7 separate regions of the Homo sapiens genome follow, and all the other regions are linked to region 1. Evidence: fine-mapped QTL for protein levels in blood plasma. A gene starts in region 1. Each other region holds a variant in brackets. All regions are shown on one strand. Distances are between the middles of the regions.

The links. PIP is the chance, under the fine-mapping model, that this variant and not a neighbour inherited with it causes the effect. Protein levels are from antibody-based Olink assays in UK Biobank. Linkage for the fine-mapping came from a reference panel and not from the study's own genotypes, which makes the PIPs less certain.
Region 2: its variant is fine-mapped to the plasma level of the PCDH9 protein (UK Biobank, PIP above 0.99).
Region 3: its variant is fine-mapped to the plasma level of the PCDH9 protein (UK Biobank, PIP above 0.99).
Region 4: its variant is fine-mapped to the plasma level of the PCDH9 protein (UK Biobank, PIP above 0.99).
Region 5: its variant is fine-mapped to the plasma level of the PCDH9 protein (UK Biobank, PIP above 0.99).
Region 6: its variant is fine-mapped to the plasma level of the PCDH9 protein (UK Biobank, PIP above 0.99).
Region 7: its variant is fine-mapped to the plasma level of the PCDH9 protein (UK Biobank, PIP above 0.99).

Annotation. Positions count from the first base shown.
Region 1 is chr13:67,228,474-67,233,099 of GRCh38, reverse strand. It overlaps PCDH9 (protocadherin 9), which reads left to right and starts at 2,764. Exons shown (of 5, transcript NM_203487.3): 1 at 2,764-3,320; 2 at 4,525-4,626. RefSeq lists a silencer at 2,354-2,493.
Region 2 is chr13:66,758,408-66,763,033 of GRCh38, reverse strand. The region is part of intron 3 of PCDH9 (protocadherin 9); the gene reads left to right. Among named protein-coding and RNA genes, the nearest start is that of PCDH9-AS2, 64 kb to the left of the region's middle. The variant A/C (reference allele first, on the strand shown) is at 2,276.
Region 3 is chr13:67,062,944-67,067,569 of GRCh38, reverse strand. The region is part of intron 2 of PCDH9 (protocadherin 9); the gene reads left to right. Among named protein-coding and RNA genes, the nearest start is that of PCDH9-AS4, 74 kb to the right of the region's middle. The variant C/A (reference allele first, on the strand shown) is at 2,561.
Region 4 is chr13:67,150,114-67,154,739 of GRCh38, reverse strand. The region is part of intron 2 of PCDH9 (protocadherin 9); the gene reads left to right. Among named protein-coding and RNA genes, the nearest start is that of PCDH9, 78 kb to the left of the region's middle. The variant G/A (reference allele first, on the strand shown) is at 2,151.
Region 5 is chr13:67,570,471-67,575,096 of GRCh38, reverse strand. No RefSeq gene overlaps it. Among named protein-coding and RNA genes, the nearest start is that of LINC00364, 200 kb to the right of the region's middle. The variant A/T (reference allele first, on the strand shown) is at 2,244.
Region 6 is chr13:67,134,554-67,139,179 of GRCh38, reverse strand. The region is part of intron 2 of PCDH9 (protocadherin 9); the gene reads left to right. Among named protein-coding and RNA genes, the nearest start is that of PCDH9, 93 kb to the left of the region's middle. The variant TTAA/A (reference allele first, on the strand shown) is at 2,418.
Region 7 is chr13:67,180,581-67,185,206 of GRCh38, reverse strand. The region is part of intron 2 of PCDH9 (protocadherin 9); the gene reads left to right. Among named protein-coding and RNA genes, the nearest start is that of PCDH9, 47 kb to the left of the region's middle. The variant T/C (reference allele first, on the strand shown) is at 1,989.

The sequences.
Region 1 (4,626 bases):
TTAATTTTCCTCTAGGAATATTAATAAGATCTCTAATAATAGTTCTCATTTTAGAGTTTAGAAGTCGGATTATTATAGGGCAAACCAGCCTCAACTATTCTAGATTTAAGAGGTAAAACTGAGAACATTAAGGAATCTCAGTCGTTCAGATAATGCCAAATAAACACCTAAAGGATATAATGCCCTGAGTCCATAGCTCTATTTGTCTCTGAAACTCCATCTCCTTTGAAAAGAATCTAGACATATTTCATTCTGGGGCTTTGACCTGTGGTTTTCTTTAATTGAAGTCTCATAGTCATTAATTGAATCATGTGATGATTTTTTTTTTCTCTTCTCTAACCTTCATCTTGTGTTCAAACTAAGATTTCATTTATGAGCAGGAGGTAATAATGGGTTCTGCCAACACGTGAAGCTATCCTTAGCAAAGAGAAACAACTCCGTTTAATAATGATGTTAAATAATTATTGCTAAGCTATGTGTTGCGACTACAACATGACTTTGAAATGACTACGGTATGATTAGAATAAGAATATGATATAACTGTGGTGCTTATGAAATGAACTGGAAAGTGGCTGTGCTGCTATGTTTATTGTAAATGTATCACAATGATGGTTCATTTATTTAAAAACAGTGCAGTGCATAAAATAGGTGACAATTGGAACAATGTACTAGCTTTAATTGTAGATTTTGTGAATGGCAAAATGATCGTTTACTGTGGTAAGATAAAAGAATCATCCTTTCATTCACTGACATTATTCTGTGAGGCAATATTTTTCTTTTCACTTTGGGATACTTGTAAGTCCTTTCTATTCTTGAATTTTATATATTCTAATCATACAAAATATTACTATAATAAAAGTTGCTTTGCTATTTAAAAAATATCAGTCTATTATCTGCAAGGAAAGTATTTTATATTTTACATATAAGGGATTAATGGATTTTACAGTGGGCTTTTAGACACTGCAGTTGAACTGTGAATATTAACTCAGAAAAGTTTGAATTAAAAAGAGCTTACAATTTCATGTTGGAAAATTGTGATGTCAAATTAGTTGGTTAAATCATGTCATTATTTATTCAATATATGGCTTAGTAAGCTTGATTGGTGTTTTTTTTTTTTTTTACTTTTCATTTAAACGTCTAAAAACAAATGTTACTTAAAAAAGAAAAAAAGCAAACAAAACTATTGTACTCAAAAACAAGGGGTAATCTCCAACACGCCCTCAGTCAAGAGCTTAAGTATGTCAAGAGCCTTTAATGCCTAGGCAGCCCATTATAGAATGGGGAACACACAGGTTTAAAATAAATGCCCTTTATTCTTCCTGTAAGTTAGACCAAGTTATTCAATCATGTACTAAGACCTTCTCTGACAACCTTTATAGGTCATTCAGAAAATAAATTTTTGTTCCAAGTGAACTGTTCCTATGTTAATGCTTCAAACTTTACTCAGGTATCAGGCGTTAAGTACAAGCCATTACACAAACCTTTGTGGTTTACTGACTTTGAAAGATCAATCAAATATATTACTAGATAGTGCTTTGGGGGTCAGTATTTGAGAAATAAAGCTGTATTTTTTGGGGAGTCATTCCATCCAGTTCCCGTATGAAAACGAGAAACTTGTGAGGATTTAGTACAGAGCTGGAGTCGGAGAAATGAAATGCACGGGAAAAGACGAAAATCACAGGAAAGAAAGTTGGAATCAGCAGAAAGTGCCTAGGGGAAAGGAAGTGTTCCACAGCTTGGGAAACAGCTGCCTGGGACTCCTTCCAGCCCCTCGGAAGCAAAGTTCGCAGTGAGGTGGGCTGGAAGCGGGTTTTGCAGCAGCCGCGAGTCCGGGCTCAGGTTTCCAGGCGCGGCTGGAGCAGAAGTGCAGGGACCGCCACGATCCACCGCCGCGGCCGGTCCCGCTCCGCTAGAGGAGACTTCGCACGCGCAGCCGACTGGCCCGGGCTGACCGAGGGGACCCAGACGCTGCCACTTTCTCTTTCCAAGGCAGTTTCCGTGGCTCTGCATGTAGGAAGTGCTCCGATTAATTTTCTTTCCGGTCTCCGCAGAGATTCCAAATTCTGCGGTCCCCACCTTTCGCTGTACTCCCTCTCCGCCCTTCTTTCCAATGTCCCTGCCAGCAAAAGCCTCTATTTGCAGCACCGGGCATGTTGTCCGTTTAACGCGCTCCGGGGATCTGCTGGCTCGTGCTCCCAACCCAGGGGTGGCTATACGTCTCGCGCCTCTGTTCCTGGGTAGACTCCCCCATCTGTGCATTTTGGCCCCTTCACTTAGCAAAGAGATGTGCGAAGTGTGCGCCTGGAGACGAGCCGCCTCGGTGACCCCCATCCGCCCGCAGCGGTGGCCCTGGTTCCCCGGATCCGCGCCCGCGCCCTGCGGGTCTCCCGCGCCGCCCTTGCCCGCCGGACCACCCGGGCTCAGAGGGTCGCTCGCTTTCAGCGCCTGCGAGCGCCGCTTCCGCCCGGGCCTGGGGAGCGCCAGCGCGTCCCTCCCACGCCGGACCCTGCAGAGCATGCTCAGTGCACCTCATGGAACCCGGCTCTCCTGGGGCCAGGATCAGATTTCCGGGTTTTCGCTGCTGCCGAGGGGGCGCGGAGGAGGGGAGGCTGGGAGACAGTCAGCGCCTTGTTCCGCGCTCCCTCCCTCGCGCCGGGCTGCGGCCGCCCGCGCCGCAAGATGCAGGCCAATCAGAGCCCGGGGGCGGGGCCTGGGCAGTCACGCCCTCCCTCTGGGCTTATTGAGAGTTATATCAAGAAATTCAGTTCAGAGAGAGGAGAGGGAGAAGGAGAGAGGGGCAGAGGGGAAGGGAGAGAGGGAGAGCACGCGAGACGGAAAGGAGCGCCTCAGAGTCTCTGAAGCACGCAAGAGATAACCGATTAGGAATTTTTCGGGCAACTGTCACCCGGATAGCTGTCAGAGAATCATCATCACCGCAACTCTGACGTTTCCTACAAGAAGTTAGAGACTTAAGCAGTATTGGCATCGGATGGAAATGGTATGCATGCTGCTGTGGAAAATATCCCTGAGCTGAAGAAGTGCAACTATGTGTTGTGTGTGCTAAATGCCCAGAAGAACCCAGACCCAGTGGGTAAGAGAGACGAAATGTGGAGAGAATGACTAACGACAAATCCGTGAATTTGTTCTCTGGAGTTGCTAATTTGCCAGCCCGAAGCAACACATTTTACAAGGAGGAAACATTTTGCTGCTTCTGATTTCTCCCCAAACTGGTGCTACCAGATGCATGGCTTTCTATGTGTTGGAACAAATCATTCCTAACTGCAGCATACTGGGAAAGGGGAAAGGTTGAGGCAACTAACGTAAGTGTAAAGTTTCGCATGCACAATTGTAAATTCTGTGTTTAGATGTGTCCTCAGTGTAGGCGAAAGATGCTTGTAATTGGGTAGACGGTTGGGGCAGAGCTCACCTACTCGGCTGTATCTGCATCCCTACCTGCATCACTCTGCCGGAACTAATCGCGGGCATCAGCTACTGTGCAGCCTAATGCAGATAAGATTAGAGCCTGAGAACTGACCAGTCCTACTCAAGTAGGTAGCTGCCTGGAGCCTTGCACCCATTTAAACTGCAGTTATCTAAGCAGAAGCCTTTTTACCTGCATGATTGGGTTGCAGTATTTATGTGTGGCAAATGTTACTAATATTCTAACCAGAGATCAGGATTAAGAAATTGCATTTTTTTTCTCTTTTATGTTCAGTAGAAAATATTGTGATGTTACATGGGAATGTTAGCTGCGTTTCACTTATATCTCGGCACTCTCTTCCACCTCTAGGAAAATGAATCCTATATTATTATACATTTTTAAAAGTTTTAATGTGTTTATGAATCCTAATGAGGATAATTTGTCAATATGGAGAAAGGAGAGCAAGCTGTGGGCAAGAAATCTGAAGTCTTGTTGTTGTGCTTTTAGGCAATGAGGATGTGTAGAGGCCGGTGACTATTGCTTCTGATGCCGCTGCAGCGGCATGTCCGGATGCTCGTTTCCCAGTAAGATTGTATTAGAAGGCAGTTGAAGAACTGGGAGGAAAGAAAAAGATAGCCTTTTTAGAAAAGATAGGTGACTCAGTGGGGCAGAGAAGAAAACACATTTGACATGTGACAAAGCAATTAGCAGGAACCGTAGCTAAATACTTAGTGTTTTTCACTTGCACCTGAAAAGACTGAGGGAGGTAGGTTAGAGGCTAGGAGGAGGGTGAGACAGGGGGAGGGGAAGAGGAGAACAAGAATGCATGTTTTGAATTAAACAGTATTCTGAAAAACAACGTGCGTGAATATAGGTAAAAATAGCAGCTGTCCTTAATTCAAAAGTAGAAAATTTTATTTTCTCCCGGCAAATGCAACCAGCAGGAGATATTTAGTGTTTTTCTCCACAGAGTAAACTTGCAAACAGTGGCAGAGCAAACTGCCATGTTTACTAATGTTCAGGGGAAAATGTGTGGTGATATTTTGTGACGGTGTGTTTTTATTTACTGAAGAATAATATTGTCTATACAATTGTGTTGACAGCGGCTGTCTCCAAATAAGTGATGAGATATAATGCATCCTCCAGTCCATGCACGCTTCCTCTTGCAATTTGTGCATCATTCCTCAGTGGAAACCTTTAAACCC
Region 2 (4,626 bases), 470 kb after region 1:
TTGTTGAACCTTCCAATAGCTATTGCATTCCAGCCTAGGCAACATAAGACCTCATCTCAAAAAAAAATAGTCTTATTATTTTGAAAAATGATTTACCATACGCTTGCTTTGAATCTTTCTGAATTTAAATATGAACTGATTCATTGTGTATATAAATTAAATTTTTTTTCTCTGAGACTTGTATCTTAATGAATTTGGATATTCACATAATATCAGCTGACTCAATAACCTGGTATAGTCTATGTTTCATAATATCAAATAAATACATTTCAATATATACAACCTAGAAATGATCTGTTTAGGATTGAGTCGAGTTAGATGGTAGAATAGGAACTTCCAGTGATTGCCATTCTCCCAACCAAAACATCAATTTGAACAACTATACATGCACAAAACTACCTGACAAGAGGTAAGGAAACCAGCTGGGAGATTACAGTGCCTCGTTGTTGCATAATGACAGGAAAAAATAAACTGAAAAGGGCAAGAATGACAGTGTTACATTACCTGTTTAATTCCTCCACCAACCCAGGAAGTGCAATGCAAAGAAATATATCATAAGCTTGAGGAAAGATGGGAAGTGAGCACAGGATTTTGCCTTGGTCCTTAACACTGGGCCCACCACAGTAAAACCTAGCACCAGGCAGACACCTATGGACTCTGAATTCAGGCTGGTGTCCATTAATTTAGCCTCCTGGCCTGTCTCAGTGCTAGGAGGGAATGCATAGTCCCTGCAAAATCTTTGGCCTGCATCATCACCAGCCAAGTGCAGTCACCATAGGTTCTGTACAAACCTCAGCAACTGGCAGGCTTTAGCAGCCATGGGCTGAAGATATACCCTGGCAATGTGAAAGCCTCAGCAGCCATGGAATTCCAGCATCGCACTGCACCAACCATGGTGGTTCTGAGGGAAGGGCATTACCTACCACTGAAAAGTCTACAGGAGTCATAGGCTTAGGGACCACACCAAACAACCTGCCCAGAATCTCTGGACAAGCTTACTGTTGAAAGGCATTTTCAGACAAATCCATACTGCAAATACTGGAAAAAATGTTTTTTCAATGTGTAGGGCATCAACACATGAACAAAAGGATCATTAATAATTAGGGGAAAATGACACTACCAAATGGACAAAATAAAGTATCAGTAACTGATCCTAAAGAGATGAAGATGTATATACTGCCTGATAATAAATTCAAAATAATGATTTTTTTTAAGGAAGCTCACCAATATTCAAGAACTACAAAGAAACAATAAACAAAATGAGAAAAACAATGTTATCCGAACTAGAAATTTAACAGAGCTATTTATTTATATAAAAATCAAACAGAAATCTTAGAGATGAAAAATAAAATAATTGGAATGAAAACTGCAAATACAATACTTGGAATGAAAACTGCAATACATATTATCAGCAGAATTGATAAAGTAGAAGAAAGAATTTTAAACTCAAAGACAAGTTATTTAAACTCATAGAGTCAGGGGAGAAAAAATAATGAAAAGAAATGAAGAAAGCTGACAGAATTAATGGGACAGCATCAGAAGAAAAAAATTTCAAGTGATTGGCATTCAAGAGTGGGCGGAGGAAGATAAAGGGGGTAGAAATCTTATTTTTTAAAAAAGAATAGATGTATCCAAACCCAGAGAAATATAAATATCCAGGTACAGGAATGTCCAACTATTGGGGGAGCCAGCCCCCAATATTTCAACATAGTTTCTTGTCTATTTTCCCTAAGTGCCAGCCAGTCTGAGAAGTAAAGAGAAAGAGTACAAAAGAGAGAAATTTTACAGCTGGGTTTCCGGGGGTGACATCACATGTCAGCAGGTTCCGTGATGCCCACCTAAGCCGCAAACCAGCAAGTTTTTATTAGCGATATTCAAAGGGGAGGGAGTGTACGAATAGGGTGTGGGTCGCAGAGATCACATGCTTCCAAGGCAATAAAATATCACAAGGGCAGAGAGGCAGATTGAGATTGCAAGGCCAGGGCAAAACTGGAATTACTGATGAAGGTCCATGTCCTGCTGGGCACACGTTGTCATTGATAAACATCTTAACAGGAAACAGGGTTCAGGAGCAGACAACCAGTCTGACTAGAATTTCACCAGCCTGGAATTTTCCAATCCTAGCAAGCCTGGGGGTGCTGAAGGAGACCAGGGCATATTTCATCCCTTATCTACAACTGCATAAGATAGACACTCCCAGAGCAGCCATTTTCGAGACCTCCCCCTGGGAATGCATTCTTTTCCCAGGGCTGTTCCTTGCTGAGAAAAATAATTC[A/C]GTGATATTTCTCCTATTCGCTTTTGCAAGAAGAGAAATATGACTCTGTTCTGCCTGGCACCGCAGGCAGTCAGGCTTTATGGTTATCTCCTTTGTTGCCTGAAAATCGCTGATATCCTGTTCTTTTAGGATGCCTAGATTTCATATTGTTCAAACACACATGTTTTACAAACAATTTGTACAGATAACAATCATCACAGGGTCCTGAGGTGACATACATCCTCAGCTTACGAAGATGACGGGATTAAGAGATTAAAGTAAAGACAGGCATAGGAAATTATAAAAGTATTAATTTGGGGAACTCATAAATGTCCATGAAATCTTCACAGTTTATGTTCTTCTGCCATAGCTTCAGCCGGTCCCTCTGTTTGGGGTCCCTGACTTCCCTCAACATCCAAAGACATCAAGTAGATTAAATGCAAATGAAGCTACCTCAAGACATATTATAATCAAAAACTTTCAAAGATAAAAGACAAATATAGGGTCCTGAAGGCAGCAAGAGAAAGAAGCAAATAACATAAAAGGGAGTTTTAATATGTCCAGCAGAGGACTTCTCTACAGAAACATTACAGGGCAGAAGAGAATGGGATGATATATGCAGACTGCTGAAGGGGGAAAAAAAATGACCGGCAACCAAAAATACTATATCCTGCAAAGCTATCTTTCTGAAATGAAGGAGAGATAAATAATTTCACAGAAAAACAAAAGCTTAGGAAGTTCATCACCACCACATCTGTAAGAATTGCTAAAGGGAGTTACTTAATCTGAGAGAAAATTAAATGAATGAATTTCACAAAAACATCTGAGCACAGAACAACTTACTGCTAAAATGAACTACACAGTCAAATTTAGAATATTCTAATACTATAATGGTGATATGTAAATCTCTAATATCTTTAGTATGAAGATTTAAAGATAAAAATATTCAAAATTTTAATAACCACAATAATTTGTTAAAGGGCATGCAATTTAAATATATGTAAAGTATAACATCAAAAATTCAAAATGAAGTGGAAGGACTCAAGTAAAATTATAAAATGTTTTTATAAGCTATAAAATGTTTTTATAAGCCTCATGGTAACTGTGAAGCAAAACTCTAGAATACATACACAAAAAGTAAAAAACAAGAAAGCACTGTTACTAGAGGTATACAAAGAAACAAACTAAATGAGGAAGAAAGAAACAAGAGAGGAAGAAAGAAAAAAGATCTCTAAAATAACTAGAAAACAATTAACAAAATGGCAATAGTAAGTCCTTATTTACCAATCATTAGATTTAATGTAAATAGATTAAATTATTTAATCAAAACAAAGAGTGGCTGAATGTATAAACAAAACAGGATTTAACCATATGCTGCCAAAAAGAGACTCACAGCACCTGTGAGGGTACACACACTGAAAGTCAAGGGATGGAAAAAGATATTCCAAGCAAATGGCAACCAAAAGAGATTTGGAGTACCTTTACTTAATTAAATAAATTAGGCTTTAAGTAAAAAAAACTGTAAAATGAAACAAAGGTCATTATGTAATTATAAAGGGTCCAATTCAGCAAGAAGATATAACAATTGTAAATATATACGTACCCAACTTCAGAGCAGCTACATATGTAAAGTAAATATTGATAGCAGTAAAGATCAGAGAAAAAGATAAAATAGAGATTAAAAAATAGAAAAGATTAATGAAACAAAGAGTTGGCTTTTTGAGGAGGTCAACTAAATTGACAAATCTTTAACTACACTAAGAAAAAAAAGATGATTCATATACATAAAATCAGAGAAGAAAAGGGAGATATTATAATTAATGCCACAGAAATACACAAAGTTTTGTAAGAGATTATTATGAACAATTACCTGCCAACAAATTGGATAAGCAAAAAGAAATGGATAAATTCTTGAAGACATATAACCTACAAAGATTGAGTTATGAAGAAATAGAAAATCTAAATAGATCAGTAAGGAGTAAGGGGGACTGAATCAGTAGTAAAAAGTCTTCCATCAGAGAAAAGCTCAGAATTTGACGGCATCACTGTTGAATTCTATCAAACATTTAAAGAATAATTAATACCAATTATTCTCAAACGCTTTCATATATAGAAGAGAAAAAAATATTTGCAAATTTATTTTTTTAATACCAGCGTTACTCTAATATTAAAACCAGACAAAAACACAACCAAAAAAGAAGACCACTTGTTAAAATTACAGATAGATAGAAGGAATAAATTATCATGTTCTATTGAATAGGAATGTTCTATTCATTACACAGTGTATACATGTATTAAAACATCACATTGTACCTCACAAATATGCACAATTATGTGTCAATTAAAATAAAATAAAACTTTTAAAAATGTTA
Region 3 (4,626 bases), 170 kb after region 1:
TCTACTTTGGGAAGACAGATGATTTTTTCACACTAATGAAGTATGTGCTATCCGATAGGGTAGCTGTGATCCACAGGTGGCAACTAAGCATTGAAATTTGACGAGTCCAAATTGAGATGGTCTCTAAGTAATTCAGAAGCCAGTACACAAAAATGGAAATATCTCATTCATAATATGTTATATAGATTACATATCAAAATGATACAATTTTTGATACATGGGGTAAAATATATTATTAGAATTTATTTTGCCTATTTCTTGTCACTAGTAAATTATGTCTAGTTAGTATTAAAAATTATATATGTGGCATACATACTTCTTACTGAGTGATTCTAGTGTCGAACTTGCCAATTGTGTTCTTTGCTCATTAACACAGACACCTTCTCCCACAATTAAATTGAAGGAAAATATAGCATGTAGTAGGATGGCTAGAAATAGGAATGAAAAATTTCAGCTAAAATTCTTGGTTTAAAAGAGAAGAGGAAAAGCATCAAATAACCGCAGCAAGCCTGACAGCCCTAGGTTGTTTCCAGGCCCTAGTCATTTATCACTCTTAGAAGCAGAGTTCTACACTGTTAATAGGCAACAATGCTATTGAGGATATAGATCCGTGCATTTCATATGGATGTGTTGTGTCTGTTCTGAATATAATATTAAGGGAAAATTATAAGTGCATATGCATATAATCTGATTAGGGAAATATATGTCCTTGAACAAATTGCAACCAAATTGGACATACTGGAATTGGTTATACAGGAAAAATTATTAGATGTTTGCTAATGTGGAAAAGTAAGAAGTGACTTATTAAATTTCATGTTAACTATATCTGCTATTCCTGCAGTAAGAAAAACACTGATAAAATCCCTAGAATTTTAAACTAATATAATAAAAAAAATTCTGTATGAAAGGCCTCATTAAAAATTCTTAAGCATTTATTTTAGTCATATATTTAAAAAAATAGAAGGTTTCTCCATATCTGGCTTAAATTGAACCATGCATTCTCTACTCTCTTTGGGTATTAAAACTGACTAACCCAGGCCGGGTGCGGTGGCTCACTCCTATAATCCCAGCACTTTGGGAGGCTGAGGCGGGCAAATCACCTGAGGTCAGGAGTTTGAGACCAACTTGGCTAACGTGGTGAAACCCCGTCTCTACCAAAAATACAAAAATTAGCTGGGTGTGGTGGCAGGCGCCTGTAATCCCAGCTACTTGGGAGGCTGAGGCAGGAGAATTGCTTGAACCCGGGAGACAGAGGTTGCAGTGAGCCGAGATGGTGCCATTGCACTCCAGCCTGGGCAACAAGAGTGAAACTCTGTCTAAAAAAAAAAAAGCTGACCCAAATTATGGCCTGCTGTTTAATGACTGTTAAGCATTCCACTGAGTTGATAGGCTAAACATGCACAAATATATCGTTTCCATTTAAAAAATACTATGAGAAACAACCCTGAACTCTCACATCATCAAGCACACACATTATATCATTTTTGAAAACTAAATTTCTTAAGGTAGGGGTGTTTAGTGAAGGAAACACATATTGTAGCATGTGATTTTTAAAGCCATATTATCCAGAAAATTTGAGTCAGCTTTTACTTTTACTAGCACTGTAGGAGACTGACTCTTTTCGAATCATGATATCTTTTAATCTTAGTCTTTCAAAACATGTACTGATTTTTCTTTCCCACCGTGATTGCTAAATATTCTAATTAGCATGTGACTTTTAAGCATAGTCTTAACTTTCTTAGATATAAAATCAAAGTGCCACCAAAGGAGTGACAATAGCAAAATTCTTATTTTTCATTTCAAGTGAAAGACTACTGGCCCTGCAGTAAAACCTGCTCTGCCCCTACTAACCGTAAGGCTTTATAATTTTCCTGCCAATTATTTGATTCACAGCTTCTTCATTTCAAAACCAGTGGTGGTGGTAGACAATATTTTCCAGCAGAATTTTTGAAGCTCAAAATTAAAATTAACCCAAGTTGTACAAGTATCCTCTAAACTATACTATTATGGTGTATTTAATAGAATTTTTAGCCATTACAGGTTTCTAACATGTATCATTATAATATGATTCATCAGCTTCCAAGTTCAATTCTATCTCACTGGGTTTTACTGCAGTTGAAGTTTAATTGATATCTAAAACTAGAATGTAATTTTAGAGAATTGAAAAAAAGTTGGGAAAGAATAATTGCACCTTTAAGTAGAAGATAAGCAAGTATTTGTTTTCATGTATTCTATTAAAATTAGACTAATAAAATAACACTTTTCTTTGGCAAATGACCAAAGCTGAGCTCTTAGAGTGTGCTCTTTAAAAAAATGCTCAGCCATGGCAGAGAACACGCTCGTTTTTCTTTTCAGTTTGATTTGTCACCATTTAGTGGGCTTGCAATAAAAGAATGATGGAATGCATGATTAACATCATGTAAGCATGCTTCACTCTAGTTTTCTGACAAGATACCAAATCCTCTGAGTTTTATGTGAGAAGTAATCCTAAGATCCAATGTCACCATAATTCCCCCAAGACAGTTTAAATATTTGGCATTCTCTCTTAAATCAAATAATC[C/A]CTTAGGTTCATTCAGGTTCCATTTTTGGAGATATATGTATAAATATCTGTCTATCTGTCTACCTCTCTGCTATCTATCTATCTATCTATCTATCTATCTATCTATCTATCTATCTATTTCCACACAGGCAGATACACACACATACACAGATACAAAAATACATATACTTTACCCCTTTGAATGCCCTAAGGGATTGTTGAAATGTGTCATTTGCTTCTTTTCATAGTACTCTAATAAAATACATTAAAAATGTGTGCAATGTCAACAAATTCCATCTTTTGGGAATGTCCAGAACTGCAGAAGAAATATAAAGAGGAGAGACATTTATTGTGATTACTAGACTGGAGTCTCAGTAGGCTAGGATTATTGTAAGTAAAATTGATTTTGTCCATGATTTGATTTTAATCTAGTTTAGCAGAATCATATTCTACAAGGAACAGATATTTAATTTAGTACATTATGATGAAAAGACTTCAGTTCAGAGAAGTTTAATGCATTTGATATGATAAAAGCACTAACTGATTGTTAGGTTTTTAAAAATAGTTATTCCTTATTATTTTATACCATTTAAATAATTTCCTCTGTTTGTAATGTTTATATTAAATCTAGAAAATATTTTAGGCTCTTGCACTGGTACGCAGGCTGATTGTCTCTATAAAATGCAGCAATTTTGGAAGGAATAAATAGGATTTAAAATTCGCTGCACAGGTTGTTTTTTTCTGATCTAGAGAATTTTCTGAGAAACCACTTGCCATAGAATGAGTTGGAGCTGTCTAGTTACAAGCTACAGTTGTAAACAAGGGTCTATGGAAACCAATCTCCTGTAATTTTCCAGTCTACTGTTTTCTAATATCAGGGAGTTAGAACACTTGGCAATTTTGAAGATGCTGCTCAACAGAGGTCTCCAGCACTTTAACAGTTGGGACCAGATGGGACAATTTTCTGAGGTTAACAATGAGGCCAGGAGAACTATCCAAGCAAAGAAAAGAAGCAAAGAGGGGATTCATAGAGTGGAGTATCCTATTTCTTTTTTCTATTAAATAATTTATGCAAAATGTTCTTGCTCTCTCTACAATTTTCCTATAGGCTGGACTCTTGACACTATATAAATATCATATCAATTCCTCATAGTACCTATCACTCTGCAACCTATTTGTTGTACACTTTTGTGTTGTAAGAAATAGAAACAATATCTACTTTGAGCACATTTGTGTTATGGCTGCTCATTCCTTTTCTATAAATAAGCTATTAAAACCATGTCTTAGCTCTATGTCATTAATTTGCTCACAGACGTTTTGTTATATAAAGTATAAAATCAAACCCAAATGGCTCTATGCATGAAACAGGCATTTTGCTATTGTTTTTAAAGCAACGAATTAAAAAGCATGTGAGACCTCATTGGCAAATCGGCAGTATAGTATAGAGGAAAGGAGGGTGACCATTATCAGAATCAGAATGTGGTAGCATTTTTTTTTTTTGCCTTGGAAAGCTTTTTAAATTCTATGAGCCTCAGATTCATTTAGTAAGCTAAATGGAATTTTAATAATATCTACCTGCAAGAGTTATTGTAAGTATTAAAATTATGCAAAGTAGTTAAAGCACCTCCCCAAGCTTAGCATGTAGTTGGACCTTAATAAATGGCAGCTGCTGCTTCTGGTATTTATACTTCCTGGCTTTTTTTGTGGTAGATGGTCCCTTGTGAATGGTACACAATGAATTGTGGGCTGGTATGAGGTTTATCCCTGCTGGGCTGGAGCATGTAATTGCTTACGGGAGATTGTCCAGAACTCTCTACCTCACTATGCCATAGCAACCAGCAATGTTACGGGTAGTACTTGCTCCATCAGCTAAGACCACAAAGTGAGTACAATTAACAATAGAGCCACCCGCTGACCTGAGATGGACTTGTAGTATGAGTAAGAAATACACCTTGTTTGCTTTAAACCATTAAGAATCTGGGGCTATTTTCTGCAGCATAATCTAGACTATCCTGATTTGCATAACCTTTAAGTAAATATAGAGTACTAATACCATCATAATTTCACCTCTTAGGCTCTGCTTAGCA
Region 4 (4,626 bases), 78 kb after region 1:
GACAGAGACTCTGTCTCAAAAAAAAAAAAAAAAAGATTACAGATCAAAATTACTTAACACAACATAAGTTATCAAAAAAGAGAGTATCTTGTATGTGTGTGTGTGTGTGTGTGTGTGTGTGTGTGTGTGTGTGTATATATATATTTTTTTTTTTTTTTTTTTTTGAGACAGGGTCTCCGTCTGTTTCCCTGTCTGGAGTGTAGTGGCAAAATCGTGGCTCACTGTAGCCTCATCTCCCAGGCTCAAATCATCCTCCTGCCTCAGCCTCCCCAATAGCTGGGACTATAGGCACTTACCGCCGTGCCCAGCTAATTTTTGTATTTTCATAGAGACGAGGTTTTGCCATGTTGCCCAGGCGATCCACCTAACCTAAGGTGATCCACCCACCTTCCAGAGTGCTGGAATTACTGGCATGAGCCACCACATCTGGCCTATAATCACTTCTTTTTATCTAATTTCATCACATTCTCTTATTACATATCTTTTGTCAAACTCCTGGGCTCAAGGGATCTACCTGCTTCAGCCCCTCAAAGTGCTGGGATTACAGGCATGAGCCACCACACCTGACTATAGAATCTTTTCTTACCTGTTCTAAACTAGTGCTTAATTATCTTATATACATGTACTGTTTTTTGTCTTATAGGAGGAAGAGTTTTTGCCATTTTAAATTTCTGTTTATTTTTATTCTTTTTCCTTTACACTTGTCTTCAGTTCAATTCACCAATTCTCCTTAAGTTAGTTGCACAAAACAATATATGCCTCGAGCAAGGTGCCAAAGTATACACGTATATTCATTTTGTGTCTTTTTAATTCTAAGGTCGCAAGCCCAGATGAGACTGGTATTGCTTTTGTCATTTATGCAACATGATTTCCTTTGGCAATTCAGTTGTTTCAGAGTAAACTACATTTTTCATCAGTGCCTATTAGACTGTAAATGTATTATTTCAGCAAATGGTAAACCTCCTGTAACTGTGAATAAAAGAATCACAGTAGAAACCTCTAAGTTAGCAAAGAGGGTAGATACTAAAGGGTTTTAAAATGTATCTATTTTTTAGAAACTTGCTTAAGTATATAACTTCCATCAACCATATGGAATGCCCTTAATGTGTAAGGCATTTCACACAATACAAAGGTGAAAACGACATCCATAGATGTTATGAAACAGACGTTTCTAGGTGAGAGGCTCATAATCTGAAAAACAGAAAATATGTTTAAACAAGTTAAGTGTATTGTGAAAAGTGCTATAAGATACTTGTTTTTAAAATGTTGTGGGCTGGGAGTGGTGGCCAACTCCTATAATCCCCACGCTTGGGAAGCCAAGGTGGGAGGATCACTTGAGCCCTGAGTTCAAGACCAGCTGGGACAACATAGGGAGACCACCATATCTGCAAAAAAAAATAACAAATCAGCCAAGTGCAGTGGCACATGCCTATAGTTCCAGTTCCAGCTACTGAGGAGGCTGAGGCAGAAGGATTGCTTGGACCCAGGAGTTTGAGGCTATAGTGAGCCATGATCGCACCATTGCACTCTAGACTGCAGGACGGAGAGAGACCCTATCTTAAAAAAAAAAAACTGTGAAAGGGAAAACTAATTTAGTCAGAGAGGAGTTACAAAGAGGCTGCCTAGACTGGGTCATAAGGCCATCCAGGTATCCAAGGGCAAGCAGGAAAGAGGGAGAGGCGAGCATGTCCATAAACCCAGAAGTGAGAATGAGTGCACTTCCAGGTGGGAGTGATGAGGGCTAGTTGGAGAAGTGTCTGGAATTCTTCACTGGGGCGGGGGATACATAGGAAGTGTCATTACCCTCTATGCGTTTTAGAAAGAAAACATTGTTTCCTTGAGGCCTAAGCCTCATTCCTCTAATTACCATCCTAGATTTATTCTTCCTAGGTATTAAAAACATAAAACCTTCTCATCTTCCTCATTCTTACTCCTTCAGTGTGATTTTTAAAGAGGTTTGCCCAAAGAACGTGAGTTTTAAGTAGCAGTAATGATGATTCTTTCTTCATATGAATCAAGAGGCTTTACTCTTTTTCCCTCACTTGGAAAAAAAAGTGGGGGCTATTTTGTTTAAAGAATATAAGGATGAGACATCACGCCTTTGAACAAGCTTTATATTCCTTCCTTTCCACAAGGGCATCAGTCATTAT[G/A]AGGCTGCAGACATTTTCTTGAGATGTGTAGGTCAGCTATGTCTAAGGGGATTCGATTTAATGAGAGATTGAGAAATATTCTGCTATCTACCAAAGATATGCTGATTTTAACTGATTTACTGTTGTTGAAAAATTGAAGAAATGTTCAGAGATTTAGGTTGAAAAATCTGTTGTTTGTAAATTTTTCTTTATCAATAAGGTAAAATCAGAAGTCTAGCAATGTCATGCTTTTTACTCTGAGCTGTACAGAGAGGCCTTAGGCACAAGTGGATTTCTGGAACCAGTGGATTTCATAAATTTGAACTAAATTGTATCAGGCATGGAGCGCTGCCAAATTGTAATTCATTAGTTCACTGCCTGGCAGAGTTCCGTTTCCTATCAACAGTAAAACATACAGGTTTCTTCTGGGTGTATGGAATGTTCTCACTTCCAAAAGGCAGATTATGCTTTTATTTCATGTAAAATTTACAATTCTTGGAACAAATAGGACACAAAAAGTCTTGTAAGTTCTTCAGCTATAAGAAGATACAATTTGGAGGAATTTGTAAAATACTATTTCAGTTTATCTCATGTAACTTGGGATGAGAGTTTTATGAGATGAGAAAGTATCCTTAAGAGTCTTTTAGTTCATTCATATAGTCTTGTAACAAAAAAAAAATTATCTCTCTTTAGGCAAAATGATGATGCAAGGACCCTGAGTGCATTTGAGCTTTGGTGCCTTAAAAATGAGTGTGGCCTAGAATTGGGTGGAGATGTTGCCTGCAGCTATACAAGGGCTGATACTTCCTGAGTCCTTTATGAGGCCTCAAAAGCATAAAGTCCCTGAGCATAATGATAAGTTTCTCCTCTCAATTATTATGTGCCTCAGTTTTGATAGATTGAAAAGATGAATTTTTTTCTTCCTCTAAGTATAGAGCAAAAGCTTTGCCAGCTTGTAGAAGGGATATATTCCCCATCCTTAGTCACTGTGTGAAACCAGGTGCTTGAATCATACAGGATCTTCTAACTCTAACAGTGTTGGATTTGGGAATGATGCAGTACTCTTAGATCCCCTACCTAAGTCAAAACTATGCCTATTTTTTTTCAGGCAAACAATAAAAGAAGTAGGAGCTCTGAGTTTACCAGTAGAACCCAATTCTGCTTTTTGCATCTCAGACACAGACACCCACAACCAGAAACCCATGAAGAGATGTGCAAAGGCTGTAGGAAATAAGGTCATGTTCTTTCATTGCATTAAACGTTAATATCCCTAAAGAGGAACAAATTGGGGGATACAAACGTTAAGAAACAATTCCATCCCTACTTATCAGTTTGACTTTAGTAGCAGAGAAATCACAATAAATGGCCCTATTTCAAGATAGTACAGAGATAAAACACATGAATGTGATTTTTTTTTAAAAAAGGAGCTATTGGTACTCATCAAATGATGAGTTTTGAATAAAATGGCCAAAGAGACCCTCAAGAAGAGGATGAGCCTTCCACTGGACTTTGAAAAAGATGGAGAATTTTTCTGGATTAAAATAAGTGAGGGCAGAGGGAACAGTATTTTAAGTATAATTCATATATGGTGCATGTTGAATCTAGTCTTATGATTAAGACTAAACTAAGGTTTACTTAGGCAGTGGATGGTGGGAAGCAATTGGAAGGCCTTGGGCAGTGAGACTTACAAAGTTGGTTAAACAAGAAAGCTAATCTTGTTGTATATGTAGGTTGGATTAAAAGGGATTAAAGACTAACTGTGCTTGCCAATAGTAGTGCAGTGGAAAGATACAGTCTTCCTGGAGTTCTATTAGATTAGGGAACACCACTAACACCTGTGTTTACAAAGGGCGAGTACAAGTTACTTTATTTGCCAGTGGTTTTATTGGTAAATTTAAAACAAGTTTATGTTAGTTGCAAATGGTTTTCTAGTTATTTAGAAATTATTGTTCTCACTTCTGGATATAATTATTGGCACATGTTTTGGATGTATTGTGTTTAAGAATCACATGACTTAAAATACTTATTATTAGGGCAAAACCAACGGATTGAATGAGGGAACACCCTGGGGCCATTGAAATGAATATGAAAACTAATGATTATATTTCTGATTAACATTTGTTTAAGATGTCCTAGTTTTCCATCCTTTTTACCTACTAATGCAGTCAAAATGTGGCTTAATAAAATTAATACTCTCTATTAATACTGATTTTTTCTGACTTGTATGGAAACCAACACTTTGGGCTTTTTGTATTGATTAAAACTCAAATTATGGGCCAGGCACAGTGGCTCATGCCTGTAATCCCATCACTTCGGGAAGCTGAGGCAGGTAGATCACTTGAGGTCGGGAGTTCGAGGCCAGCCTGGCCAACATGGTGAAGCCCCATCTCTACTAAAAATATTTTAAAAATTAGCTGAACGTGGTGGCATATGCCTGTTATCCCAGCTACTTGGGAAGTTGAGGCAGGATAATCACTTGAACCTGGGAGGCAGATGT
Region 5 (4,626 bases), 340 kb before region 1:
TGTCAGGATCCCTAAGACTGTCTCCAAATTCAGTGATTCACAAGGAGGACTCACAGGACTCAGCATACAGTTGTAACCATGGCTATGATTTCTTACAACAAAAAGATAAAAAGCACCACCAGCAAATAGAAAAGGAGCAAGGTATAAATTCTGGAAAAAACCAGGCACACATTTCCAAGAGTCTTCTCCCCATGCAGTTACAACAGGATGCCCTTAAATTCCTCAGCGATGAGTTTTGACAACGCTTGTGAAATGTTGTCAACCTGGGAAGCTCATTAGAGACTCGGTGTTCAGAGATTCTTTCCTGGAACCTGATCATACTGGCACATCATGCCTGGCATATAACCCAATTCCAGATGCCTAGAAGTAAAGAAGTTGTTTAGCATAAACCACATTGTTTCCATAAACAGTGCAGGCATGATGAGGCACTCGTCAGTTAATGGTGGAAACTTCCTGAAATTCAAGTTCCTAGATGTAAGCCAAGTATTAATATAATACTTTAGGCCTGCCATATTGACTCTTTCTGTACAAGGTTAAAAGTATTATCTGAAGCAGAACTGCTGTCCAAAGTGGTCACCCTGGTTATAAATAGACTTGTTTGAGCTCAGAAAGTGCTTTCTCACCACAGACACTAACCAACGTAGAAACTCATCTAGAAATGTGATTAGATAAATAAGAATCATCACATCTTTGAGGAAAAAAAGAAAATACAAATGTAACATTAGAAGAACTAGCTCCTGAGGAAATGCAATGAACAGAAAAGAATATTAAAATCAAACGTTTTTACTATTTTAAAAGTAAATCTTTTAAATATTTAATGTATTTTGCATATTTTATTACTGAATACATGCTAGTAATGCCTAGAGAAATATTAGATTTTTATGAAAAATAAAAAATAGGAGAAAAGCGTCTGTCATTCAATAATATGATTAGGAACCAGGATAGCAGCCTTACTAGACAGACTATGGATGAACTACCAAATAGACGCAATACTGATGATTATTCTTTTCTAAGTCTGAATAGTATTCCATTCAATGCATAGTAAAATGAGCATTGTCTTTTTTCAATTTCCCAGTATTCTTCTTTAACACATCAACTACTGACCTTGGAGAGGAACTTCATAAATTAATCTCATATTGAATTTTATTTTATTCATTTAGTTTTAAAATTGTCTATCTTTAATTCTTGTGGGTACATAGTAGGTGTATATATTTATGGGGAACAAAAGATGTTTTGATAATCCCATATTTCACTCTAACCCATTAACAAGACTAATCTAAATCCAAGAACCCAAAAGAACATGATACAGAGGAGTAAAAGATAAAAAAATCATTGGTTACGCGCTAGGGATAGTGGAGAAAAGAAGAAGCAAACGTGACTAGATTTAAGGAGAATCCTCCTTATCCCCCTATGGGTTTCTAAAGGAAATACCAAGGGCAAATGGGCTACCATGCAATTCTCTGATTAGCTATTAGTCAGCTGTGCCTCCTGCCCACACATCCACCCTTACTTACCCTCAATAACCAGGACCATGAATTCACAGTTGGATGGTCAGGCAAGGAGGGATCCTAAATTTTAGCTTTGATGACTAGTTGTGTGTGTGTGTGTGTGTGTGTGTGTGTGTGTGTGTGATGTAGACAGCATTCAGAATTAGTTGAGAGGCTGACTGGAGAGTTTTCCAAATGTTTTCAAATAGTTGAGGTGGCTCGCCAAGGAAACATGTAGAATGCACTGATAGCCCACTGACATACCCCAAAACACTGAATTTAGAAAGCTATTTCGGGATGGGATTTTGGGCCTGATCAAACTAAAAGCAACCAAAAACAAGTATATGAGTGAAATCATTTTTTTCTCAGTAAATATATGAAAAATACATGAAACTAACTAGACGTTGTAAGCATTAAAATGTACATATTGATGGTAAGAAATGTTTATATAAATATTTCAGTAATAAAGAAAGAACACTCTTATGAAGCCTTCATGTAATTTATAACTTTTTTCTACTAATTAAGACAAAAAGAAATTTTGCATATGGAAAATAAATTCTATACACACAAAAAATACAATAGGTCTTTTCCTCTCACAACAAAGCATTATAACTAAAAATTGGTATTAAAGAATAGACCTTCTATTGTCCACTTTCCAACTCTACCTTGAAAATTTCTTAAAATCCATGGGAAAAAAAGATATCAGAATTGAAATTGCTAAGGCTCCCACAAAATTCCAACAAAACACCACGCTAC[A/T]CTCCAAGAAAAAAAATGTATCTAGCATCAAATTAAATTCTCATTAAAAATGAGAACTAATATGAAATATAAAAATATGGAAAAACACAAGTAAATTTACATAAAGGAAGTAAAATAAGGGATAAAATATAATAAATCAATAATATAGAAAAGTTTAAAGGCAGAGCTTTTAAATTATTAAATAAAAACCTGGTTCTTTTAAAATGTCAGGGTAGAAGATATTTGGTGATTCAAAGCAAGAAAAAATAGAAAAAGTAAAGTAAGTTGCTTTAGGAATTGGGAGGTAGAAAAATTTTGGATATGAAAAGTCTTATTATAATATTATATATCAATATGTGCAGTGATCAGGAAACTGGCCAAATTTGAAACTTAATTTGTGAGTTTTTCTCTGTTTTGAAAACCTTCCAACTCAGAGGGCAGTCATGCTCATGACACACCTGATAGTTAATTGCAGACTCCTCACTTTTTCTAGTATTTCTAGTCTGGGATGATGGACACAAGGGCAAAATTTTAATACAGGGTAATCAGATGTTTTTCTTAGGAAACTGATTCTTGAGCTGAGCGGTATATAGAAGATGTTTTGCACTGAGTTGCATTAGAACAGATCCTAAAAAAAAAAATCTCTAGGAGCTCCTGTGGCTAAGGTCTTGGGGTTTTTGTTTTTGTTTTTCTGTTTTTTCACTGCTTTTAAGTTCTCAGTAACTCCAATAACATTCCAATAAAACATTTTTTTCTTTTTTACTCAAGTAAACTGGGATAAGTTGTTAGCAAACAAAGGAATCTGTCGTCAAAGATCTGAAAAACATGAGAAATATCAGACTGCAGGGTTAGATTGCTGCTTCTGATATTTCTAAACAACTCAAAATAATAGGGTGACTATTTTCACTCTCAAAAGTTTTACCTCATGTAAAGAATAAAATGTCGACTTTCATATGCTCCTCTTGCAGGGATTGCTCTTGTAGTCATGGGGCTGAGACTGGCAAAAGTCATTTTAGAACATGAAACTGCAACAAATTACATCCCTAGCTAAAATTCACAAATGCTTTATTTTTCTCTGATGCATGCTAGAATGTTGTTTTGGAAAAACTGGAAAATTGAACGATGATATGTCAGAGAGTGTGTATCATCAGAAACTTACTGTCCCTCCTCCCATTTTTAATCCTAACTCCTGAAATTATCACTCTAGCTTCTCCTATACTGGAAGGCATAAACAATTTTCTCCGTTCTTCAATCTTTTTTTTCCACTAAATTTTAACTAGAATTATAATTCAATATGGTCCTTGGAGTGAAAAAAAGGTCACATTTTAAAAGGATTTATAAAACTTCCCTAATTTACATGTTAAAAATGAGAAATTTTGCCGGCACAATATTGACAGTTCTCGATTAAAGAAGATTAATTTTGGAGGGCTTATTTCATTGCTATAGATGTGCATGCTTATACATGTGTACATATTTATGCACACACATGCAAAATGATTCTGTATTTAATAGCATATTTGGAAAGTCAGCTATAGTTATTTCCATTGGCTGAATTAGATAATGTAAATCTTAACCAAAGTCTGGCTCATGCTACGTGATATTAGAAAATTATACATAATTTAATGTAATATAGAATAATGACTAGCAAATCTTCAGATTAGAATATTTGATTTCTTTTTTTATGTGTTATCTTTACACTGAGTCCAATCTTTGTTCTCTTCCAGACTCTGAAAATTTCTCTCTCTCTCTCTCTCTCTCACACACACACACAATTTGCATATGGCATATATTGATAAAGGGAGCAAAAGAATCTTTGAAACTTTGCTTTGATGTTCTTGAAATGATGGTGGAAGAGTCCATGATCCAATGAAGATTTCTGATATCAATTGTGATTGGAGGAACCTTACTGAGATGAGTTCAGTTTTCTCAAAAATGAAGTTGGTGTGATCATCGCGATATGACAGTCTTCAGTCTATCTGCAGCATTGAAGGGTCAGGGAATGGTGAATGGTATGACATGTAGAGCTTCCTGAAACTCAATGAATTTCCAAGGATTAAGTTGAAAGGAAGCTAAACTACTTGATTAGTAAAATCAAAACAATACAGGACTGGCAAATAGTCCTGTTTCAACTTGATTCACAACCATAAAAAAATCACATAATTGTCAATATTTATCAGCCTCAGAGTCTACCTACTGTCTACCTTGATAGACAGATTTATTTTCAGGAATTTTTTATAAAATGATATGCGTCTACTAACATTTCTCACATTTCCCACAGATAAATGTGTGGGAAATTAAAAAAAATCAAGATTTTGAGAAAACTGGCTTGATTCCGAGCTAATTATAATTACTAGGAACTCATAATATTATTGTGAATGCCAATTAGAGTAGAGCATTTTAGAGT
Region 6 (4,626 bases), 94 kb after region 1:
GTTATGTTATTACTTGGGTGATTTGACAGAATTCACCATGGCTTATGCAAAATAAGACATGGCAGATGTCAGGGCAGAAGAAGGTGCACATGTGATAGGATTGACTAGAGTTTTGCCCTTGAGAATTGAACGGAGTGGCATTTCCTTCCTGATACAGGTATTATCTTACTGCTCTGGATCCTTACTATACAAGATTCATTTTCTCAATCACATAGACATACATACTGTTGATATTGTTTTACATTATTTTACCTTAAACCATAACTGTTCCACTTTGTTTCCTCGGATAATTTTGTGTGGCTTGATCAAAGTATTTACTTACTCTCATATGTATAGGCTATTTTCAATAATATATTAACATATTAGCAATAAGTTCAGTAGTTCTGTTAACAGTGGAGGGTATCCAGGTTCTTGGTGTCTTGAACAAAGAATTGGACAAAATGCACAAACAAAGCAAGGACAAAGGGATTTACTAAAAATGAAAATACCCTCCACAATGCGGGCGCAGGCCTGAGCATAGGAGCTCAAAAGGCCCCATTACAGAATTTTTGGGAGTTTAAATACCCCCTAGAGGATTCCATTGGTGACTCGGGGTACGCCCTATGTAAATGGAGAGGATGAAGTAAAGTCACAAAGTCGTTCACTTGGCCTATGCCCTCTGGAGCAGATATTTCCTGTCATAGCTGAAGTGTGAATGGGCCTTATGTTCCCTGCCTCCAGACCCTATTTTCCTTCCTGCTTCAGTTCAGATCAACAGGTGGCACAAACTGTAAATAAAGCATGAACAAACAAAACCCGTTATAATAATATTTTTAATATTTCCTGCAATTTACATAAGTCACATGAATAATGGGCACCCTGTATTGTGTGCTTATGGTGTGCTAGATAATATTCTAAACAGGCCAGATATTTCAGCCTGTTTGGTTCTCACAACACTTCAATGAAATGGGGATGTGTTCTTTTTGCCATTTTGTATAGGAGGACATTGAGGATCAATGAGACAGAGTACTTTGCTCAGAAAATTTCAAATAAATAGTAAAGATAGAATTCAAAACCACTTCATAATATATAGAAGTCGGTGAATTTTTTTTTAATTTAGCTAAAGTGGACTTCTTCCCAGTCTGCTAAAAATTCTTATAAATACCACTTTAGGTAAAAAATCTCTTTCTCTCTGTGTCATAGAACATGATTTATGCATGACTACTGAAAATAAGACTGGAATCAGATTGTTTATGGGCATTCCTTTCAGCTTCAAAAATTTTTAGAAATTTTTTACATAGAATTGAACATATTTCCTCTCCTTTTTTGGACATTTTTGAGATGTGCTTTTTTTGGTAAAAGCCAAGTAATCAATTATGGACAAAGCAAATCAAATAATCCCTGTGGCTGATGACATTTTTAGGCCAAGCAACTTTTTTAGTAGCTGAAAGAGACCACCAGAGAAGGAAGAATTTCCTTTTATTTCTGTATATAAATAGGACATTAGTAGCTTTAGCAGACTCTGTAACAATAGCACTACCTCTCACTATTGCAGACAGAGCTGAAAAAAATGTGGAGAGGTTAAATGTTCTAAAATGTATTATAAAATTACATGTCTCAGAAGCTGAAAGCCAATTTCCATTACAACACAGCTCTGCTGTGTGTAGAAGTTGAGTCATCTCTATTTTGGTAAGTGTTCTTTATCACCAAAGATAATTCATGCTATATTTTCATCTTTATGATGGAGGCACGAGGATCACCCCAAAGTTTTTACCTACGAAATTGCACTTGACAAAGCAGGCTGAGGAAATAGTGACAGATACTCTGGTACATTCCGTTGAGCTTACAGTTTGAGGTTTCATACAAACGATATGATTTAAATAGTTTACCACCCAGTTATCTTCCTTATATTACTACCTGAATATGACTTGGCTCACCCGTATCAAGCCCTGGCTCTTCACAGGAATGACAAAATATTTACCGAACAAAATGATTAGATTAGAAGTCCCAGCTTCTCACATTGCTACACAGCAACACTGCAGGATAAATAAATATAGATAATTTTCTTTTTTTTTATTATTATACTTTAAGTTCTAGGGTACATGTGCACAATGTGCAGGTTTGCTACATATGTATACATGTGCCATGTTTGTGTGCTGCACCCATTAACTCATCATTTACATAATGATTTATGAAAATTATCTACAAGAGATAAACCTAATGTAGATAATTTTCATAAATCATTTTATAGAAACTTTTATTCATAAACACGTTGTGTAAAATGCAGACACAGAGAAACTAGAGCCACAGATATTTTGATGTCTATTACTATTACTATTCTTATAAACTAACCTTTGTAAACTATCAAATTAATGTCCAAGTGATTGATTCAGACTGGAATTTGAGTCTCCATTTCATATATAACATAACTATTATTA[TTAA/A]CTAACATTTGTAAAATTTGGAAAATATAAAATTATTTACATTTGTAAAATATAAAATTAAAATCCAAGTGATTGATTCAGACAGCAATTTCAGTCTCCATTTCAAAGAGATTAGACCATAATATCTGCCTGAACTACACCATTTATATAGAGTTTAGCTAGCCTATATTTCCAGTGAGTACAATTTAATACAGCATATTGAATTCTCAAAGTATAAACTCTCCCAAATTTTCTTACTTTAGCATTATATGATGCAACAAACTCAAAGGACCACCTGCAGGTCTAGACTATAATGTCATGTGGAACACAGGCACACATGAAGAGAAACAGGCACTGCAGTGAAGGGTTGATTCTTCCCCACCTTATCACTTACACAGTCATGCGTCACTTGACAATAGGATAAGTTCTGAGAAATGTGTTGTTAGGCAATTTTGTCGCTGTGTTAACATCATAGAGTGCACTTACACAACCCTAGATGGCACAGCCTACTACACACCTAGGCTACGTGGTACAGCCTGTTGCTCCTAGGCTGCAAACTTCTACAGCATGTTACTGTACTGAATTCTATGGGCGATTATAACGCAATGGTAGGTACTTGTGTATCTAAACCCATCTAAACATAGAAAGGGTACAATAAAAATACAGTATTCTAATCTTATGAGACCATTGTCAGATAGCAACCACTGTCAGATATGCAGTTTATCCTTGACTGGAACATTGCTATGTAGCATATGGCTGTACTGAAAATTTTAAGAATATTCAGTATGGATGGGGAGGAAGTAGTAGTAGTTGAGGAGGCAGCATAGCAGAGATACCAGAGAGACCCTTTCTTGCTTTCTAGGAACAGGATATGTTATTGTAAATGAAGGTAGCAAAGAATCCCCCCAGTCAACACCACCAGGTCTCTAATTCTCCCACTGTTTAAGAAGGCATTATATGAGAGAAAAAATCTGAAAGAAAAACATGCCAGCACCTCTCTTCACTTTGCAAATGTACTACAATTTCTCCTAATTCTATTTTTCTGCAAGTGCTTTTTTGTTTTTAATTGACTCCTTGTAAATTGACTGCACGTATTTTCAAATTCTCCTTGTCCATTCTTGTTGACATCTTCTCCTCAGAACTCTGCTATTTATAAACCACTAATTGTTGGGATCTCATAAACACTGCCCACCAATGTTCTTACCGTGAAATTACCGTTTCTAGTAAAGTACTGGCATTTGGCTAGATGTTCTACTTCGTAATTTTAGAAAACCTTTTTTATGTGAATCAAAGTGAGGAATATTAAAAAGGAGAAAAAAGAAAAGAAATGCTTATTATAAAATGAGATCTATGGGGTAAAAATGAAGAGAGATGTAGAAAATATAAATTGGAAACACATAGCTAGAGTTTAGAATTCCTTTTCCAAGCTAGGCTTTGAGGCAAAATGTCCAGTTTGAACTGACTATGACATCTCCCCAGGACCTTCACCATCCCCTAAATGGCAGAATTATTAAACAGTAAAAAAATTAAAACTAGAAAATATTGTTAATAATATATTTTAACAATTCACAACATACATTTTGGTGTTTCTGAAAGTGTGCTGCATCTTGCCATCAACTGCATCTTAAAACTTAATTGACAAAACTTTTTAATGGTAGGAAATCATAGTAAGTTGTATAAATAATGGTATCATAAAATCAACAAAATGCATTATTATTAGGAATAGTAGATAATGTTAATCTTTCTTATACAGAAATAATTTGGATAATCCTAAGCATATTATACAAGGGACTGGAAAGTTTTCACTTTTCACTTTTCATTGGTACCCTTTAACTACATACAGCTCCTTTACAGTTTCTATGGTACAAAAATCAACCAACACAGCGTGACTTTATCTTTTTAAATAATCAGTTGTTTGAGACAGTTTTCAACATAAATTTTGATGGCGAGTCAAGGAGTTTAAACTGCCGTTTTACTCATGCCAGATGCCACTTTTACATTGTTTTAAAAGCTTCTGGAGTGTATTTATAGATGGCTTGTTTGCTCTCAAGCATGTTTCTGAGTGTGTGTTTGCTGCTGTTTGGCAGTATTTTCAAATGTACCGTAGCAAGAAGCCACCCCACAACTCAGCCTTATATTCCTGAAAACGAAAGTGCTTTTGTATTTAAAAAGAAAGAAAGAAAGGAAGAAAAACAAGCTTTTAAATGAAGAAGAATGCGTATGGGTA
Region 7 (4,626 bases), 48 kb after region 1:
ATAACATGAGAATATAACAAAACATAATATCCTTGATGGTGATGTTATTTTCTTTCCTTCTTTTCTAATGGACTACAAACAATATATTTATTTTAATTGCCAGGCTCTCTAGTAGATCAAATATTAGTGCAACATTCACTCACTGCTCTCCAGGGCATTGCTAGGTATAGGAGTTACATGAATGGTAGACAAGCAATTCTCATCAAAGGTAGTATGTGACAAGTCTTGCCTATGTAGTACGGAGATTCTGTGAAAGAAGTTATCGCAGTCAACAGAAAGGACCAAAAAGGGATGTATTAAGATGAGGTTTGAAGGATGAATAATCTTTTGACAGGTCAGAAAAGGTCACTCCTCGTGAATAGAAAATAGTGAAAAACTGCACTATTTATAGAATTTTTGGTTTTATTTACTAAGATCCAATACATCAATACCCCTCACCCTGCCCTTAGGGTTTTATTTGTTTGTTGGTTGGTTTTTAGACAGGGTCTCACTTTTTCACCCAGGCTGGAATGCAGTGGTGCGATCTCAGCTCACTGCAGCCTCAGCCTCCTGGGTTCAAGCGATCCTCCTGCCTCAGCCCCCCAAGTAGCCGGGACAACAGTTGTGTGCCTCTAAGCTCCGCTAATTTTTGTTATTTTTTTATAGAGACGGGGTTTCACCGTATTGCTCTGGCTGGTCTTGAATTTCTGAGCTCAAGGAGACTGCCCGCCTTAGCCTCCCAGAGTTCTGTGATTACAAGCATGAGTCACCATGCCTGGGCCCTACCCTTAGTTTTTGAAACCTGTACCTCCATAAATTCACAGAGATCTGAATGCGGATCTAGTAAGATTATCACACAGTCAAAAGGCAAACATGATTCAGAATTAGCACAGAATTTTTGGCATGAAAAGGAACTTACCTCCTTTTCTTTCATTATAACCTTCACCTTCACAAGTTTTGTTGTTAAACAAGCTGTATGCCTTAATTTCCAGTGTTGTTCCCTGTGTCATTTGATAGAATGGTTTAGACACCAAGCATCTGAAGGAAGTTATAACCTACATTTTTACTAATCAGGTGGTTGTGAAGTAAAGACTAAGGAAAGAGACACTATTCTCTTTATTTTTTGCGCATGAAACATAGAAAATTTATACCGCAAACACTAGATGTTTTAAAAGACGCAAATGCAACATTCAGGATACTAGTTTTCTCATAAACATACTTTTAACAGAAGAATCAATGAATGATCATAGGACGATTTGCAAATATGTCTGAAAATTTACTGCAAATCTGCATCTTAATATGCCTAGTGTTCCATTATTGGAATGCCACGTAACTCACCAAAGGGACATAATATTTTTTTTCTTTTTAAATTCTTGTTCCTTGAATTTTTCTAGGTAACACATGTAAATTTCATGCAAAAATTCAAAACATTGCAACCTCAGTCGTAAACAGGTTAAATCTTATTTTCTAATCATTGAAAGTGTTTTTCCAAATTTTCTTAAATTATTATTTTAAAATATAACAGTGATCTTTCATTATAAAAGTAAAAAATATCAACATTGCTTAAACACCATTGGTCCTTTACCTTAAACAACATTCATCATATCTTATTTGGTTTTTTGGTTTTGATTTTTTAAAAAATAAAATGTATAATATACAAAAGTGTTGTAATTAAACTGATTGTCTTTATTCACACTTTTCTGAGTACTCTGCTTTAACCATATCTCAAAGACCCAAGAGAAACATAATAAAAATAGCAGCTGAGATATTTGGAGTTACAGATAAATTTGGAGTCATAGTTTGAAGTTATAGATTCAAAAGAAAAGACAGGAAGCAGACTTGTGAATGCAGGAACTTGAAAGGGAGCCAATTCATAGCAGACTTTTTCAAAAATATATTTACCTACACTACCCCAAATTCCACTTCACATGCTTAGTTTTGTGTTTTTTTTCTTAATAGTTAGGAGTCCATGGTTGGACGTGGTAGAAATAGATTTGATTCCTGACAGT[T/C]GCTTACTTTCTAGTTTGGGGGCAAAACTTTAGGCTCTCTGATCCTTAGTTTTTGCAGTGTTTGGTAGTGAAGTTCAGAAGTACTTAAAGTGCCAGGCATAAAATAGTAGTAATTATTATGATTATTTTATTATCATTGATAATGTCTATAGTAGTAGTAACAGTCATAGAAATCCTTACAATCTATAGATTAATTAATTACAATTATTCCTTCCAACACCTAGCTAAGAAAATTGCACTAAGGTAATAGGGCCATTCTTGTTCATTTTCCTTTTTCAGGAGATTGAAAAGATAGTAATTTTAGAATTTAGATCCTTCCTACATTGATCCTTCCAACATTCCATGGAAATTAGGAATAGTAGTGAAGAATTTATGGCATAATGAGAACACCTGGGGACAGGCAGAGTGGCATGTAAAGGAAGAGGGTACCCCAGAATAAATTTTATCCATCTCCTAATTTTTCCAGGAAGAATTAGTAAACGCTATTCTACTTCTTTCACCCAATGGCTTCTTAAGTCTGGGTGGTAACAATTTACTGTCAGTGTAAATTTTTCAACAGAGATCAGTTGATTTAATCAGTAAAGATTTATATTGCATCCTAAGTGGGAAGAAAAGTGACTTACAGTTTTCAGCAGAGGGATACCTTAATCTGACCTATGATTTTCATTTTTTTTTATTTTTAGAGAACATTTCGATTACTATGTGTAGAACTGACTTTAGTGAGGAAAGAGTGAAATAATAATACATATAATGATAGTTTGGACTAAGATATAGCGAAAAAAGGTGGTAAAGAATGGTGAGATTTTGGATATGTACTGCATATGTGTTACAGCCCATATGGCCTGTAGACAGATTAGATGTTGGGGTGTGAAGGAAAGAGAAGATTTGTGTCTAACCTCTCAACTCCATGTTTTTTCACTTTAATGACAGGGGAAATTGGGAAATTTAGGTCTGGAACATATTCAGGTGAAAAACTGAGAGTCCTGTTTTAGGCAGGATGATTAAAATGTCTACTAGGCATCTAAATAGAAATATTATGGAGGTAGTTTAACTTATGAGTCCTGAGAAGGAGGATATAGCAGGATATACATATTTGAGACCCATCACTGTGTTGTTTAAATGCCCTGAAACTTGAAACTGATGTTGGTAACAAGTGAAAGAAGAGATCCAGGGGCAGAGCCTTGAGCCATGCCCACATTCAGAGGCAGGAGGAGAGGAACCACCACAGGACACAAAGGACTGGTCAATCAGGTGAAGGCCAGACTGGGGACTGTAGTGTCCTAGAAATTAAGTGAAGAAAATGTTCCTGAAAAGAAGGTGATTTGCTGTTTAAATGTTGCTGAGGAGGCACGAGGGTGTTAGAAGACAGAGAATAAACCATTGGAAGATAGGTATTGCTTGTATCTTGAGAAGAATGGTTGTAGAAACAACTTATTTTGTAGTGGTGTTTTTTTTTATGGCCTAATTTTTAGTCACTTTTGTGTCCATTTGGTAATTTTTAAATAAACAGCTCTATTACACTGTCCCTCCTTCTTTCCAAGATTCACTTACTTTGCTTTGATTTCATATCCACTTATAGAGCTGGCATCCACTGAAATTCTTTCCCTGTTTAGGATATGTGCACAGAACTTTGTATCACCTCCATTACACTGTACCTACAAAGCATTATTATGTCATACCATATTAGCAAGTTAGAAAATAATTTAACCTTCCCTGCTTTCTAGTTGTCTTGATATTCATTTCACAAACATATTTTGAAAACGGTCTGTGTGATTTTTCTACCCATTCCTCTCTCCTCTCTCTCCTGAACCTCCTGTGATATGAATTTCCTCTACGGCTTATGAAATCGCTCTGCTTAATGACACCAATGATTTCCTAAAAACTAAGACCGATAGCTTCTTATGATTATTCTCCCTATGCAGCTGCTTTAAGTAGAAAGTTGAAAAAAAATTATTTGCACTATATGCAAGTTTGATTTACCATGACTTAAATTTCAATAATAAATCCCCAGGAACTCCTCTTTTGACTTAAGCTTTTCATAGACACTAGTTTGAAAACCACTGATCTAGAAAACCAGCATTATGTTAATGCCTTTTATAGAGGACCGCACCTAAGGTAAAGGCCAAGCTGATTGTCTCTGGGTTCCGACACATCTCCCACTGTTAAATTTCACATTAATTTGAAATTGATTTTTAGTAATTAAAATCACAGTTATATTAGCCTCTTGACACAGATTTAAAATGAAGAGCTTTAACTTTATAAACGATAATGCTTATTGCAGTTGATGGTGCTAAAAGGTAACAATACAACTCTGTAAATACATTTGGATTGCTATCCCTGAACATGAGCCAGCATCATAATCTGCTTATCAGTGAGAAATGTTCAGGGAGTGTGAAATTCAACAAGACAAGCCAAAGAAAATTAATTCAGACTTGCCTCAGAAATGCCAATTGACCTAATCTTCCCAATCTATTAATTCTGAAGGTAGAAGGAGCAATAGATAGAAAAGCCTAGAGGGTAATCACAATGACACAAGACTTAGGAGCAGCTCACAAAGTTGGCTCCGCTCGTGAAGACCAACCAGGGAATTTTGAATAGTTATTTTAAATGGACATAGGCCATGCAGAGTCTTACAGGT